Linked DNA regions of Homo sapiens: region 2 is linked to region 1. Evidence: fine-mapped expression QTL. Tissue or cell type: cerebellar hemisphere. Region 1 holds a variant in brackets; the other region holds the start of a gene. All regions are shown on one strand. Distances are from middle to middle.

Region 1 (8,111 bases):
TGTTTAGCTTTTGGTATACACTAAGAGGAGATATTTTTTCTGGCTGTGGATACGTACTGCCAAACTAATCCCTGAAAAAGACATACAAGGTATGAGAATTTGTATCTCACCATGTCTCAAGACGCATTATAATATGTTATAGGTTGTTGATGTTAAAGTTTATGACAACCATTTACATACTGAAATTTAAATATGTATATCTAAAAAATTTATTAGCAATACATGGATACATATGTTATTTTTAAACATTTAATATAGACGCATGTAAAGAAAATTCCCCTTTACAAACCTTATTCGTCACGCCACTTTTTTTCTGTATTACTGTTAAAAGCTTGGAATATATATATCCTTTCAAATATTTCATATGTAATCACATAAACACAATAAAATACACAAACAGCTTTTTAGTTTTAACATACTATATGAAATCATATTATTCATATTTTTCTTTATTTTTTTCAATTAATATATCTTGAAGAGTTTTCAGCACGCAAACAGTATCAAGCTTCATGGATTAATAAATATTTTCTGAATTAAATAATTCATGACAATTTCATAGAGATCCACCTAATGCTTTTAAATGGCTACATGGGAATTGATAATAATTAATGATGTAATTCCTTATATTTGTGTACATTTATGAGTATTTTTGTAGAACAGATTATCAAATAAAAACTGCTGTGCAGATTTGATAATTGTGCAATATATAAGTGTTTTAAAAATACATCAATGCACTAATGTTAAAAAATACTGTGCCAATTTATACCATCACCAACAGGGTATGCAGATACTAGTTTCACTACACTCTTACAAAAAATGAAGCTCAGTAGTCACTTTTATTCTTGCAAATTTCATAGGCAAAAAAAATAACCTATTAGAATCTGCATTCCCCTGGTTTCCAGTAAGAATGAGTATCATTTCAGGAGCTAAATTATTCTGCTAAGAATTTGTTATTTGTACACTGCCTCATTGTATCCTTTTTTTTTTTTTTTTACAAGGGTGTTGTTTTAAAATTGATACATGAGAGCATGTTATATATTGTGAGCACTGACCATTAGCCTGTTTTAAATATTGCAAATATTCTCTTCCAGTCTATCCTTTGCTTTCAAATTTATAGTATATTTTGTTACAAAGAAATTTCAAATCATCAATGTCTTATTTTGTCCCTTAGGTTTTTATTGGTCTTTAAAAAACTTATCTTTTTAAAAATTGTCTGAGGGAGTCATTTCATATCCCAAGATCAGATTGTTTATATTTACATATATATGTAATTTTTTTCTTCCTAATTTCTTTGGACACTTAAGTCTTCAGTCCACTTAGAACTGCTGCTATAGCATGGCATGACGTTAACTTTACCACAATATTTATAGACCCTGATGTTAATATTTTATCATATACTTAGTTATTAAACATAATAGTGACTATTTTAGGGCTGTTTAATTCCTCTGACTTGTCTTTTTATTCTTTTAGAGAAATCCTACCTTATTTCCTTTCATTTTTATTATTTTACATATATTTTAGTATCCAGTCGAGCAAGTCTTTCTACATTTGTATTATTTAAAAATTACATTATTTTAAAAAAAGTTTTTCTTAGCCATCTTTACATTTCTTGAAATGATTTTAAAAACAAGCTTAAATTTCCAGTGGGATTTTGGTTTGGACTCATTAAAATGATTGACTGGAGTAAAATTTGATATCTTTTAGTGATTATCTACAGGAGTATCATATGTATATTTATTCAAATTTTCTTTAATAGCTCAGTGAAACACTGCAGATGATTTCATATTAACTGCACACATCTTAAGATTATTTTTAAATGTTTAATGTTCTTTTGAGCAATTATCATAAGCACATTAGTGACTTTTTTAAAGAAAATATCTTACTTGAACTGCAGAGAAAACCTCTAGGACAGTATACAAAACTGATGTATCCTGCGTATGTATAATTTTCTAAGGAGAATACCTTTTTGAACAGGTCTAGTCTTCATTCAAATTTATATCCAAAAGTATATCCAAACCAAATACATATTTTTGTTTGATTCACACCTCTGATTTCTTCCATTAATGTAGCTGACCAAGAGTGAATGCATAGTGAAACATACATTTAAATAGTTAAAGCATTTAGTTTCTCAGAAAAAGAAAGGCAAATATATTCAATTTAATTGCAAGAGTGAACTGAAAAAATGATCTGAGAAGCAAATTGATCTACTGAAATAAAACAAATTTTTCATTTTTAAACAGTATCATTTTACAAGTTTAAGTGATGTTTTAAAAATGTGTCCAGAAATTGAGTGAGTGAACAGAAGAAAATGTACTGTTTGATCAGTTAATTATCTTTGCTATTTCATTTATATGAAGAATAATATACTTTTTAAAAGGTAAGTTAACTTCATGCTGAAGCCAAATGAATTTTGACCACCTAAGTTGTGGTTCTACCATGATCAACCATTTTATCTTTGCATTTTAGGAACTATAAATACTTTAAGTTTTCATAGACAAAATATTTAGAATAGGAAACAGAAACCACTCAAATAACTTGATGATGTGAATTTAAAAAATCCAAGTACCTTAACTTCTTCACATAGTTCAGTAAGTCGAGCTTCTACATCCATTTCCTCTGGAAGGAGTAAAGAGTAGAGGAAATATTCCAATGTTAGATATTTAATTTATATAAATAAAATTCCCATAAAAAACTGAAAATTAAGAATGATCTGGACTGTATTCAATGAATTAAATTTCAAGGTAACATATTTTCATAAACATATTAATTACATAGGTAATGTGATTATTAAATTCTACATTCTGATAAATATCATTTTTTATTTTTCACAAGAGTTAACACTGTCAAGGAAATATTAACTATATACATAAAGTAACTTGCACAACTGTGTCACAGAAAAGACCAACTATATAATTAGATTTTACTGTATTTCATATTTTATAATTTCCAGTACAGTTTAGTATTTTGTGTTATATATACATATGCCTTGCTTTCTTGTGTTTTACAAAAGCTATTCCTAAAATGCTCAAGTAAAATTAATTTTATCACTGAAACATTTAAAACATACCTGGTGTGTAGGCTATTTAATAAAAATGAATGTCAAGATCCTTTAATAGTTAGTTCCTAATGTATTTATTTTTCTATAAAATATTCTTAAACTGAGGCAGATATTTGCATAGAATTCTGATTTACTTAATGTATGCTATAATAATCTATAAAGAGGTGCACAAATTTACAATTAAAATGATAATATTTACCAGGAAAAACAGAAACTAACAAAATATAAAGATTTATAAATTATTTATTTTTGGCAGGGAGGAATTACACTAATGTCTGAAATATCTTTACATACACTTAATTTTTAAGTAGAAATCAAACAGGTCTTTTAAAAGAACTGTAACAGCATAGTTATAATCATACAAAATTCCCATAATCTTGTTGTGAAAGAGTTTAATTGATCTTTCTCACACAAAGGCAAGAACACATTCTATAACATCCCTGAATTCACTCATCAGCTGACTAATTTGTAAAACAGACTGAATGTTTACTACATGATAAAAATGATAAACATTTAAATTTGTTTAAAAAAGCAATCACAATTATGTGGTAAAAACACAACCACAGTATAATTGTTAGAGTGGGGAGACGGCCAGATACGAGCAGGCAAGGGAGCCTCTGGGCAAAGAAGTCCTGGAGATGTCGCCCACTGACAGCAAAAAGGACAACGGCTATATTGGTTATACCTGGCCTTGTGGTTGGGCTCCTGCGACCCTGAAGCATGTGCACTCCTCCAATAACTCACCCTAGAGTGGTCTTTTGCTCATTATAATAGTAAAAAACACATCCCTAGGTGGAGATTTTAAATGCTAACGAGACAAGCAACGTGTGTACTAGCATGTACAACTACAGAGCATGTATGCCCAAGGGGATCATCTAAAACATGATTGCAAGTGACACCTCCTCATGCCCTTTCAT[G/A]AATAATCATGTATTCTTCATAGAGTTCCCCAGCACTGGCTGCTGCTAGCTCACTCTCTCCAGAAGCTTGCTCTGCTTTATCTTTCAGAGTATACTACTGTCTCTTTAAATAAATTCTGCTGCTTAACCCTTGCTGCGTGTCTCTTGGCTGAATTCTTCCTTCAACAAGAATCAAGGACGCTGTACCCCACCCGGTAACATAAACAACAAATACTCTGTTGTTAACTAAAAATCAATGGAACACATGTATTTCATAACTCACAAAATATACAAGTAAATTGTATTTAGATATTGATATATACCAAAAAATAGATCACTAATTTGGCCAACTTGTTGGTAACTAAAGAAATTTGCAATGATTTCACAAATCATTTCACTGTTAGATAAACCAGTGGCTTCTAATATTGGGCTTTCCAAAACTAAAAAACCAGCAACAGACTCTGCATTAAAACCACCATCTGTTTTCACATTACTCATGATCTTTTCCTGTGACAGAAAAAAAATCAGTAAAGTTAGTCTTAGAAATTACATATTCTACCTCTGATTTTTAAAAATTAGAAAATAAGGTTTTGAGAGTTGTGACACATTTTTCTAATGTTTACATAGAAGAACCTAACTGCATAAATGGGTATGTTTGCATTATAGCTACTGAGAGCTACTTCAATGCAAACAGTATCTTAAAGAATGTTTAAAAGCATAATTTAACTCTAAAATCTTAGAACTGAAAATAATTTTGAAATCACTTAGATTTTTAAGGGAGTTTAAAATCCTATTTTAATTATTTTTTCTTTTTAAAGTGACATATATAACAGACCCTTGAGCAACATAGGTTTGATCTACGCAGGTGCACTTATACACAAGTATTTTTCAATAAATATTTTGGAAAGAATATGAAACTTGCAAACTATGTAGCCTAGAAATATTGAAAAAATTAAGAAAGATGAATATGTCATGATTGCATAAAAACATGTAGATACTAGTCTTTTTATGTATTAATCAACTGTTTATGTTATCTGTAAGGCTTTCAGTGAATAGTAGGCCATTAGTTGGTAAGTACTAGAGGAGTCAAAAGTTACAGGTATATTTTTAACTGTACAGGGGTCAGTGCCCCAGTTCTGGTGTTATTCAAGGGTATACTGTATATCCATTTATACAGTTTTATAGAAATGTATAAATGTGATGATTATCATATATTTCTGGGGGGGGGGGCTTGGCTCTTATTACTAATCCAAGGTTACAGTCTAGAGCATATCCTTCCATATTTTTCAAATATACATATACACATATGAGTTTTGGAGTCACTGTTTTATAAAAATAGGATTGTATTTTGCACAATTTTTTGCATCTTGCTTTTTTTCTCTCAGCATTACCCCACAGTATTCTGGTACCTAGCACTAAAGCATTTTTTAAGATGACTACACAGTATTCCTTGATGTGGGTGCATCATGATATATTCTGTATTCCACTCTTTGCCCAAATAATGGGCATTGATCTTTGTTTATACTGTTTTGCCACTAAGAACAATACTGCAATAAACATGCTTGTACCTGTATCTTTACATACTACCTAGTATGCTATTTCTATGATACAGGTGAACAGAAGTGGGGATGCTAGGTCAAAGGGTACATGTATCTAACATTTATTTTCTAAATCTATCCATTCATTCAACAAATATTTATAACACAGCTCAGACAACGGCAATACAATGTTAGGTTTAAGGATAAAAGATATCTCAACAAAAGTGTTAACTAACTTCATTATGTTTTAGTTTTGAAAATTAAGTATTTTTCTACTCAACCAAGATCTGGCCCATTTTTAAAAAATAGATCTTATTACATTAAACTGCATTCTGTAAAATTATTTAGAATGCTCACATGTAAACTGATAGGCTGGCAATAAAATAGTTTAAATTAGAAGTATATTTTAATTGCTAAAAAATGCTAAAATGTCATAAATGGCCACAGTTTCATACTATGAATTCTTTAATTTTACAGTAACTTTATATGAGAATATAATACTATGTTCCAGAAAGAATGACAATAAATTTTCAACTCTTCTTTTTCCTTCCTGACAAGAAAATCAGTTTCCCTTAACAGTCTTAGTGAAAATTAACACAACTCAAATATTTCTGAGTTAGTTTTCACCTGAGAAATGTTGAGATAGATTTTGGCTTTTTAACTTCCTTCATTTCATACCTCTGAAAATTGGGAAATAAATACTTATTTTATTTCACTTTTTGATTCCTACAGCTTTTCATAATTTTTTAAAAAATTGTGATGGTTTACTGAACGCAAAGTGAAAACTTTTAATATACTCATAGATAATAAATTATGGCTATTCAAGAAAAGTCTAACATATATATGAAAATGTATAATAAAATAATGAGATCAGAACATTTCCTTTACCATGCATAACATATCCAGAGAGTGGTGATTTGATGTTATTTTGCTTTTTAAATGTAGAATAACAAAAAATAAATGCAAATTGACTAAAACAAACAAACAAACATACAACACAACCCAGATCCTGATAGGATATTTCTCTTCTCTATTTCTTTTTTTAAAGCTTTTTTTTTTTTTTTTTTTTTTTTTGAGATGGGAGTCCGACTCTCTTGCCCAGGCTGGAGTGCAGTGGCACGATCTTGGCTCACTGCAACCTTCACCTTCTGGGTTCAAGCAATTCTCCTGCCTCAGCCTCCCATCTCTTCTCTATTTCTGCAGTGCAGAAAACTAGGTTTAGTTTTTTTTGAGGCAGAGTTTCACTTTTGTTGCCTAGGCTGGAGTGCAATGGCACGATCTCGGCTCACTGCAATCTCCACTGCCCAGGTTTAAGCAATTCCCCTGCCTCAGCCTCCGAGTAGCTGGGATTACAGACATGCGCCACCACATCCGGCTAATTTTGTATTTTTAGTAGAGACGTGGTTTCATTATGTTGGTCAGGCTAGTCTCCAACTTCTGACCTCAGGTGATCTGCCCACCTTGGCCTCCCAAAGTGCTGGGATTACAGGCGTGAGTCACCGCACCCGGCCTGGTTTAGTTTTAAAATCACATTTCATTATCACTAGGCCTAGCCAAAGATAAAATAACTGAGCAAATTTAAGGCGATGTCATTAAACCAACAAATTGTAGTAATAATCATGGTTTTGAAAAAGTGCTCTTCATAGAAACTTTAAAAAACATATGAAAAAAGCCAGTGAGTTTTGCATTTACCATTTCCAGATTTAAGTAAAAACTTCAATATTACAAATTAATTAGGAAATTAACCAAAATTTATCTACAAACCAAATTGATTTTAAAGGTAAGTTCTTCAGAATGGTGGAAACATACCACATTATTAAATATACATTTATGAAATCTGATGCTAATTTAAAGCAAAATTTCATACTTTTTAATTAAAAGGGATCATTTACTTAAGCTATTTGTAAACGTACCTAGATGGTTGTCTTTCTGTGTTCGTAGCTGTTTTCTTCTGAGAAGACGCTCATATAGGAGCTGCATGTTGGCCTTGGCTAGTCATAAGGATTGCACACAGCACTAGTTACTATACTCCTTTCACAACAAAACTTACTAGAATTTTCCAACTTGTTAATAATAGACTTAGTGTTGATCTGATAGTGCAGTTAGTTAATTAGCTTATCAAAATTACAAATGATGTACATTCAAGTATATATTTCTTTGGTTTTTTAATTTAAATGTATGTGCCACTCAACATTTCATAATCCAATATGTCTTAATTAATTAGACTCAGAATTTTAGGTTGGCAGGGATCTCAGAGTTAACTCCCTGCTGTTACAAGTGTAGATATTGGGGTTCATATAGGCTATGTGACTTGCCCAAACCTAATTCCAGAACTCCTGACTCTCATGTTCAGTAAGAGCTCCCTGCACCAAACCAATATTTAATTATATGTCATCAGAAAATGTACATCATTCATCTGGGAGAAAAGAGAAAGGCAAAAAAGCCGAAAGGAACTCAAGGCGTTATTTTAAAAGAGGGAACATATTTTAGAAAAGTTTTCAAAGCATAGTCAAGTTTAAGAAGTTTAAATATATGCTTATTTGAAAACTCAATGAAAGTGGTAAGTAATAGAAGGAAATATTCTTTAATCAAGAACTACTCTGTATCCACTTATTAAAA
Region 2 (8,111 bases), 76 kb after region 1:
GGTGGCTGAGGCGGGAGAATCACTTGAGGCCAGGAGTTTGAGACCTGCTGGCCAATATGGTGAAACCCCATCTCTACTAAAAATACAAAAATTAGCCAGGTGTGGTGGCCTGGGCATGTAATTCCAGCTACTTGGGAGGCTGAGGCACATGAATCGCTTGAATCCGGGAGGTAGAGGCAATACAGTGGGACTCTGTCAAAAAAAAAAAAAAAGTCCCAGTCTATTATCAATATATTTATAACATAATTTAGAAATATGTTCTATATTCTGTATGATCTCATAGAGACCTAATGCCATAAAAGGAAATATGCTATAATTTTCTCAGAATGGTTTCTCGGTTGAGAGATAGTTTATCAAATTTTTTTCATCAAAATAAGAACTACCTGAAGGGTTAGTTACTCAAGTAGGAGATGTCTCTTAATGGTATAATATGCCTGATACTTTTACATTTCTATTAGGAAAAAAGAAGCTAATATTTCTTCTAAATTTAGCACATTATCAATAACCAAGTATGTACCTGTTAACAACTGCCAATCTTTAAAAATAAAATGTGAACCTACTGTGGAGTTGTTTCACCTTATTCCTTCTGAAAAACCTAGACCTGCCTAATCACTTATGCTTTGTAACTTTTCTGAAAAACCACTGAGTCCATTAAGAATGATTTCTTCTATATTACCATTCTGCTTCTTATTCCTCTTTCTTTCTTTTAATTAGGAGAGGGTTTCGCTCTGTTGCCCAGGCTGGTCTTGAACTCCTGGCCTCAAGAGATCCTCCTGCCTCAGCCTCCCCAAGTGCTAGAATTACAGGCATGAGCCACCACACCCCACCTTATTCCTAGTCATCTCTAAACCTTCTTCCTGACAAACAACTCATGAAAAAACACTTCAAATCTATATGCCCTCAGCTCCATCCATTTATTTAAATGCACACATGTACATATAAAAAACTCAATGTTAAAGCACTTTTTCCTCAATACCTAGAATCAAAGCAAAGGAAATCCTTGGCTTTTCTACCCCCTAAACAGCCCTCACAACAAGGATTTAATGTAAACAAAATAAAGATTTTATTTAATGTAAACAAAATAAAAATATAAAACAGAAAATTAAGGATTAACTAAAGATATAGGTGTAACTCTTACATTTCCTTTCAGTGTCAACTCGTGGCAAACAAAAGGAATATCTGTTTTACAAACTGAATGCTGCAGTGTCTGTTTCACTGTGTATGAACATTAACTAATGTGTGAACATTAGTTAATGTACTAATTAGAAAACTCTAGTACATTAGAACTGCTGCTTCTCAAGGAAGCTTGCACTTCTTTCAAAGCCAGGTCATTTTATTTGGTACATCTATCTAGTACATTAGAAAAGTCTAATAGAGTGCTAGTCCACAGTTCACCAGCATTCTACTAGACTTTTCACAGAAGTCTGAAATTTAAAAAAGAAATGTTTGATTTGGGATTTAAGCAGTCAATTATACTCTTACTACACAGTCTAAAATTAAAGAGATAAAAACTAAGTATTTATATAGCAATTTTTGTCTGCGGTGGCCCTAAGCATGTTTAAATGATTAGGGCTTGCTTTGCTATTAATTACTTTACAGCTGGAGATACTGAGATACACAGGTTAAGTGGGTTCTACAAACTAATGTCATGAGTCATCATAAGAGTTCATATATTCTGACTAGAAATTCTAGTCTTCTGCCTGCTGTCCACCACAAATCCCTATTTAATTTATAAGAGCACAGGAACCAACTCACTAAAAATACCAGCAAGAATTTGTAGGCATTTACTTTTTTAAAATGAATGTTTACCTAAAAATAAAAAGACCTGGCTTTTTATTTGAAGGAAGTGCAAGCTTCCTTGAGAAGCAGCAGTTTCTTTATTTGCATTTGAAAAATCATTTTTAAAAAATCTTAAAAGCTGATGAGTGCATCACCTCTTACCATACACAATTGCTAGTTCTTCTCAAAGAAGTGTGGTTTGATGACACCAGAGCCTCCTAGTTTTACTTTAAATCACTTTGAATAAGGAACTACACTTTTTTTTTTGCCTTGGTATTTCCCTTCTTAAAACAGAAACAGAAAACTTAATTCCTACCTGACACAGACAACATAAGGAAGAATTTGTTTGTGGACTGCTTTGAGATTCCAGAACCAAATACATAATCCAGTTGATCTTCAACCCTACAATAAAGACAAACTTCACTAAACATAATTGCTTCAGCAGATGCCTTCAAAATAAGATACTATACCATTATTTATGGAAAGAGAAGTTTTATTTAAGCCAAATCTTGATCACAATGCAATGGAGGAAAAAAATTACAAAACCGTTTAGAAAGTTCTTCTGCTCAATTAAAAAATTTAATACTTCTCACGTATGTCTCCTATAAGCACACTAATTCTAAAGGTAGCAGAAATTGTATGCATTTATTAGAGAACAGAGACTCTCAGGAAAATTATGCAATCAATTGCAATAGCAAATGTATAAAACAAATTAATAATACATTTTAAAAAAGAAATTCTGTTAAATTTCATTTAAGATTAGTTCTTGGACAGCTACACCTAATGGAGGACAAGAAAATTTCCAAATTTTAAGTGTATGTTTGTAGGTCAACCTTTAACAAGTCTTAACCCATTATAGTTTCATTTAGTCTGTACTCAAGTTGCTTTCCCAGGCATGCCAGGTAAACATAATTCTTAAAAATTAAAGCTTTAATCAGTAAGTGTAACCGATTTGTTGCTACTGTCACTCTTTTGATGATACTTCCACCAACCGGTAAAGAAAGAAGAAATGTTATTAAACTGGAAGATGAACTAGAAACATTGAGTGGATACCTAGCTTAGGCAGAAAGCAGCAAGGACTAGAAGGGTATGTCACAAAGAAGTCTTCAGAGATTTAATAAAAAGTAAAACAAATGGAATGAAGTTAAGAGGCTTGACTTATACAAATGGGGGGGGGAGGGTGGAAGAGTTTTGGAGGGGAAAAAATTAAGATTAGAGACTCACTGGGTGCAGAATGGAAAAGGACGTGAGGATAGGGGCCATTAGACAGAAAGCGATGAAGCAGGGTACCAGAGGAAAGAGAAGGCAGTGAGGGTTTCCGAAGCTAAGATGGGGCATGGAATGAACTCCAATGCAAAGCGATGCTAAAGCAAAACACAATCGGCAACTAACAAAAAGGGAACCAGGAGGAAGTACCGAAAGGAGGTGGATGAGAGGAAAATAAAACCAAGGAAGAAATTATGGAGGTAACAAGAGTGAGAAACCTGGTCGGCCAGGGTAAGGAGCTCCGGACAGGGAAGAGCCAGGCAAGGGATGGAAGCACAGAGATACGCTGCTTCCCAAGGAGGGACCACCCGGGCAAAAAGACACGTGGGAGGCGCGGGATGAAAAAGCAGAACCACGAAAGCGGGTAAAGGAGGGACAGAGCGACGAAGATGGAGCAGGGGTGAAGGGCAAACACGCTAGGCGCGAGGTTCAGGAAGAACGGGTCGAGGGACGCGCGCAGGGGCAGGGGCGGCCGCGGGCACCGGGAGAGCAGCGCGCCGCGGCCCCTCGCCTCCCTCAGAGCGCTCCGCACCGCCGTCCCCACCGACCTTCAACGGGGCCGGGGCCAGGCTCCGACCGCCAGCAGTCGGGTGAGGGGCCGCGGCGGGCGAACGGCGGACGAAGAGGAGGCCGCTTCCTTCCTGGCCCCTGGGCAAGAGGGACGGAGGGAGGGGTCGTGGGTGTCGGGAGCCGGGGGAGCCAGAGGGGACAGTAAGGGGGTTACCTCTCGCCCGGCTCGGCCTCTTCCCCCGCCTGTCGAACGGAGGAGCTCGTTGTCCAGCTGCAAGAAGACGGCCCGACCCGGGTCAGCACCATCCCGCCCCGGGCCCCCTCACATCGCCATCACAGCAACCGCAAACACCGCAACCGCGGAGCCGGTTCGTCACCGCGGCTCGGCTACTGGCCCAGCGCGGCCAGCGAGCATGCGCAGTCGCCCCAGTCCCGAGGGAGCCCGGGCCAGCCGGCTATACCTGCGATCAACAGGTCCCCGGCCGCACGGCCCCGCCCCCGGCCTCTCTCACCTCCTCCTCCCGCCTCTTCCCTCCCCTCTCTGAGGCTAGGCCCCGCCCCTTCAAGCTCCGTGCCCCGCCCTTCAGGAGCTTCAACTGCCCCTCCAGCTCCAGCGCCAACTGAGATTTCGAGAGATTTGTCCTCCCTACCAGGCTCCCGTTCCCAAGTTCCCGCGAGAACGGGAGGTTTGCGTCAATAAAAGGCGCGCGTCAAGAAAAGGGGCTCGCTTGTGGGTTTAAGGGATGGAACTTGGAGGTGGTTGAAGAGTAGTGAACAAGAAGAGGGCAAAAACACGGAGTTCGAGAACTTTAGCCGTTTTTCTCACAATGTTGTTTCTCCTTTTCTCTCTTTAGCTCCTCCGTGCAGTCCCGGGTAGAGAGCCCGGTCCCTGCGCTAGTCGATTTGTGCAGTAGGAAAGGAGGCTGCAGGGGATCTGCGCCGGGGCAGGACAGATGCCTTTCGGGACCCAGTGTTTGCATCTTGGGAGATGTGGGTGCTGATCTGGTTGTTTCTTGGTTTATGACGCCAAAAAGGGCGGGAGGGGGCTGATGAAGTGAAGCCTTTCGCTAATACATTCCGTTAACAGAAGCCCACGAAGGATCATTGATTTATTTCACTCTTCCCTGTTTCTGAACCTTATCTGGCAAAAACTTTTGTGGTGCATAAAGTTCAGTATGTTGCTAAAGCTGAGTTAATGAAAGGAAAATTTCAGCTGCGACTCTTGTTTTAAAAATGAATCTAGGATGGATAGTGGTGTTGGTTGCACAACAATGAATGGACATAATGCTACTGAACTGTGCACTTAAAAATGGTTAAAATGGTAAATTTTCTGTTATGTATATTTTACCACAATAAGAATGAATTAGAAGGGAAAAGCTTTGTGCATTCATTTGAAAGTAATGGTGAGGTCTTGTAACGTAGGCCATTTAGGGGACAGGTTTTGAATATATCTTTGTACCAGTTTTTTTTTTTTTCGAGTGTGTGTGTGAGACAGAGCATTGCTCCGTCGCCCAGGCGGGAGTGCAGTAATGTGATCTCGGCTCACTGCAACCTCTGCCTCCGGAGTTCAAGCAATTCTCCTGTCTCAGCCTCCCTAGTAGCTGGGACTACAGGCGCACACCACCACGCCTGACTACTTTTTGTATTGTTAGTAGAGACGTGGTCTCACCATATTGGTCAGGCTGGTTTCGAACTCCTGACCTTAGGTGATCCACCCGCCTTGGCCTTCCAAAGTGCTGGGATTACAGGCCTAAGACACCGTGCCTGGCTTGTACCAGTTTTTACATGATTGGGTGTCCTCTTATCCTGTGAACCAATTTATTTGCATTTGTATGAATGGCCTGCTTTCCTGATTTCTAATTTGTCCCTTCTTTTATAGCCCTATACCATTTTACTATCCTTGCTAAACAGGCTTTTATTGCTTGTTTTGTGACTTGAACTTTAGCCTCAAAATTGGAAAGGCTTTTTCTGTTTTTTTTTTAGTTCCAGCCATGTCTTAGGAAAATATAGTAAACAACCAATTATTTGCATTTCCACGTCCGTGCATCCCTAAAACACACAGTGTGCCAAGATTCTTTCCCTGTTCCACGTTCTTTTTATTCAAATCACATTGTTAACTCATCTGCTGTGTGCCAGGCAGTGTGCTAATCTTGGAAGATACCAACATGAATGAAAAAGAACTTGGGTGGAGTGTTTGCATTATTACCCTATGATGTAATGTGTATAGTGCAGAGATAAATGCACAGAGAGCTATTGAAGCTCAGAAGAAGCATTAATCCAACTTTGGGAAGAGGTCATGGGTCAGGAAAAACTTCCAGGAGAAAATGATTCCAGAGAGTTGAAGTGGGATGTCTTGTGGTGGCGGTTGGGAGGAGTAAAGGGAAAAGGATTGCTTGAACAGAAGCTGTACAGTAAGAAACTGGTCTTTGTGCTGAACTAAAACTAAGACTTCTATGCCACTGTTTAGGGATGTGAGGCTGGAGAAGTTGACAAGGATCATGGTGAGCCTTCAAAAAAAGTCAAATCAGTTCAACCATTATATATATATATATAGCTTATTAGATATTTGCCAAATACTGTGCTAGTTACTGAGGGATATAATGAAAGTTAAGGGTCAGTCTAAAATCTCAGAGTTTGCAATCTAGCAGGGGTAGACAGGCATGTAAAAACAAAAAAAAAACAAGTTCTGCTACAGAGTTAAAATTGGGGTAGGTACGGGGTTGTCTGGGAACCCAGAAGAGGAGCACTTAACTAACCTAGAGATTTAGCAGGACTTCCTGGTAATTATCTATTGATAGAAGAATATAAAATAATCTCTTAAAGAAATAAGAAAATTCACCTGGGGTGGCTCACTCCTGTAATCCCGGCATTTTGGGAAGCCGAGGCAGGCAGATCACTTGAGGTCAGGAATTTGAGACCAGCCTGGGTTTAGTAGAGAAACCCCATCTCTACTAAAAATAAAAAAATTGCCGGGCGTGGTGGCAGGCGCCTGTAATCCCAGCTACTCCAGAGGCTGAGGCATGGGAATCACTCGAACCTGGGAGGTGGAGGTTGCAGTGAGCCGAGATCGTGCCACTGCATTCCAGCCTGGGTGACAGAGTGAGACTCCATCGCAAAAAAAACCAAAACGAACAGCAACAACAACAACAAAAACAATAAGAAATACGAAAATTTATGGCATCTACTGAGGTACAGACTACTAGAGAGTATAGCATACTGATCTAATTGTCAGATTACCTGGTTCTAATTCTAGAGTCTACAGTATACTGTGTTATCTTGAGAGTCTCTTATCTTCTCTAGGTCTGTTTTCTCTCAAATATAAGAAGATAATCACATTATATAGACTTTGAATTCCTTTAGAAATTTGTCTAGAAATTTCCTGATTCTAAATTTACTTCCCATATTTATCTTCCCAAGTTTGGTGTCACCCATTATGCTGCTAATAAACAGTTTTGTGTCACATTTAATGTACATTAACATTTTATGTTATATATGTGTCCTTTTCAATCTATGTTGTGCTCAAGGAATATAAGATTTGGAATCCTTTCTATCTTGTAATTGGTTTACATAATTTAACTTTGGCATGGAGTGTTTTTGAATGTTTGCTAAACCCTTCTAACTGTGGAGTATTCTCTTAATCCAAAGATCAGGTTATCTCTCCCTTTCTCGGTTGCACAACATTGGTTCAGCTAAAGATTGAGACAGTAGAAGAAATGAATATTGTAAATTTGAAAACAGCCTCATGAAGGCCGGGCGCAGTGGCTCATGCCTGTAATCCCAGCACTTTGGGAGGCCTAGGCGGGTGGATCACGAGGTTAGGAGTTCGACACCAGCCTGGCCAACATAGTGAAACCCTGTCTCTACCAAAAACACAAAAATTAGCCAGGCGTGGTGGTGAGTGCCTGTAATCGCAGCTGCTTGGGAGGCTGAGGCAGGAGAATCACTGGAATCCTGGAGGCAGAGGTTGCAGTGAGCCGAGATTGCACCACTGCACTCCAGCCTGGGCGGCAGAGCAAGACTGCATCTCAAAAAAAAACAAAAGAAAGAAAGAAAAAGAAAATAGCCTCATGAAGGATGTCTCATATTTGTCAGATGCTAAACATTAATTTACTAAAAAAAAAAATTAAGCTGGCTTTTTCCTTACTGGGCTTTATGATTTTTAAAATATTCCTGTTGTAAGTATGGTCATTATTTGAAAATTAAAAATGAGATATAGTCAAAGTTATTCCACAACTATATATATATGTACATACACACATATATATACACATATATATACATATATATATACGTGTGTATATATATACACACACACACACACATTTTAATTTCGACTTCTATTTTAGATATAGAAGGTGTATGTTCAGATTTGTTACAGGGGTATATTGTACCCAGATAGTGAGCATAGTACCCAGCAAGTAGTTTTTCAACCCACACTCCACTGCCTCCATTCCTCCTCTAGTAGTCCATAGCGTCTACTGTTCCCATGTTTATGTCTAACACAGCTATATTTGATGCTTCCCTTTTTTTAGTTTCCTGTCCATTCCATTTCCATG

The links. PIP is the estimated chance that this variant, and not a neighbour inherited with it, causes the effect.
Region 2: FAM135A starts here. The variant in region 1 is fine-mapped to the expression of FAM135A in cerebellar hemisphere (GTEx, PIP above 0.99).

Annotation. Positions count from the first base shown.
Region 1 is chr6:70,485,539-70,493,649 of GRCh38, reverse strand. It overlaps FAM135A (family with sequence similarity 135 member A), which reads right to left. Exons shown (of 22, transcript NM_001162529.3): 11 at 2,567-2,616. Among named protein-coding and RNA genes, the nearest start is that of FAM135A-AS1, 76 kb to the right of the region's middle. The variant G/A (reference allele first, on the strand shown) is at 3,976.
Region 2 is chr6:70,409,361-70,417,471 of GRCh38, reverse strand. It overlaps FAM135A (family with sequence similarity 135 member A), which reads right to left and starts at 3,964. Exons shown (of 22, transcript NM_001162529.3): 1 at 3,770-3,964; 2 at 2,096-2,181. It overlaps FAM135A-AS1 (FAM135A antisense RNA 1), which reads left to right and starts at 3,514. Exons shown (of 2, transcript NR_147708.1): 1 at 3,514-3,635; 2 at 4,410-4,644. RefSeq lists silencers at 3,448-3,597, 3,938-4,157.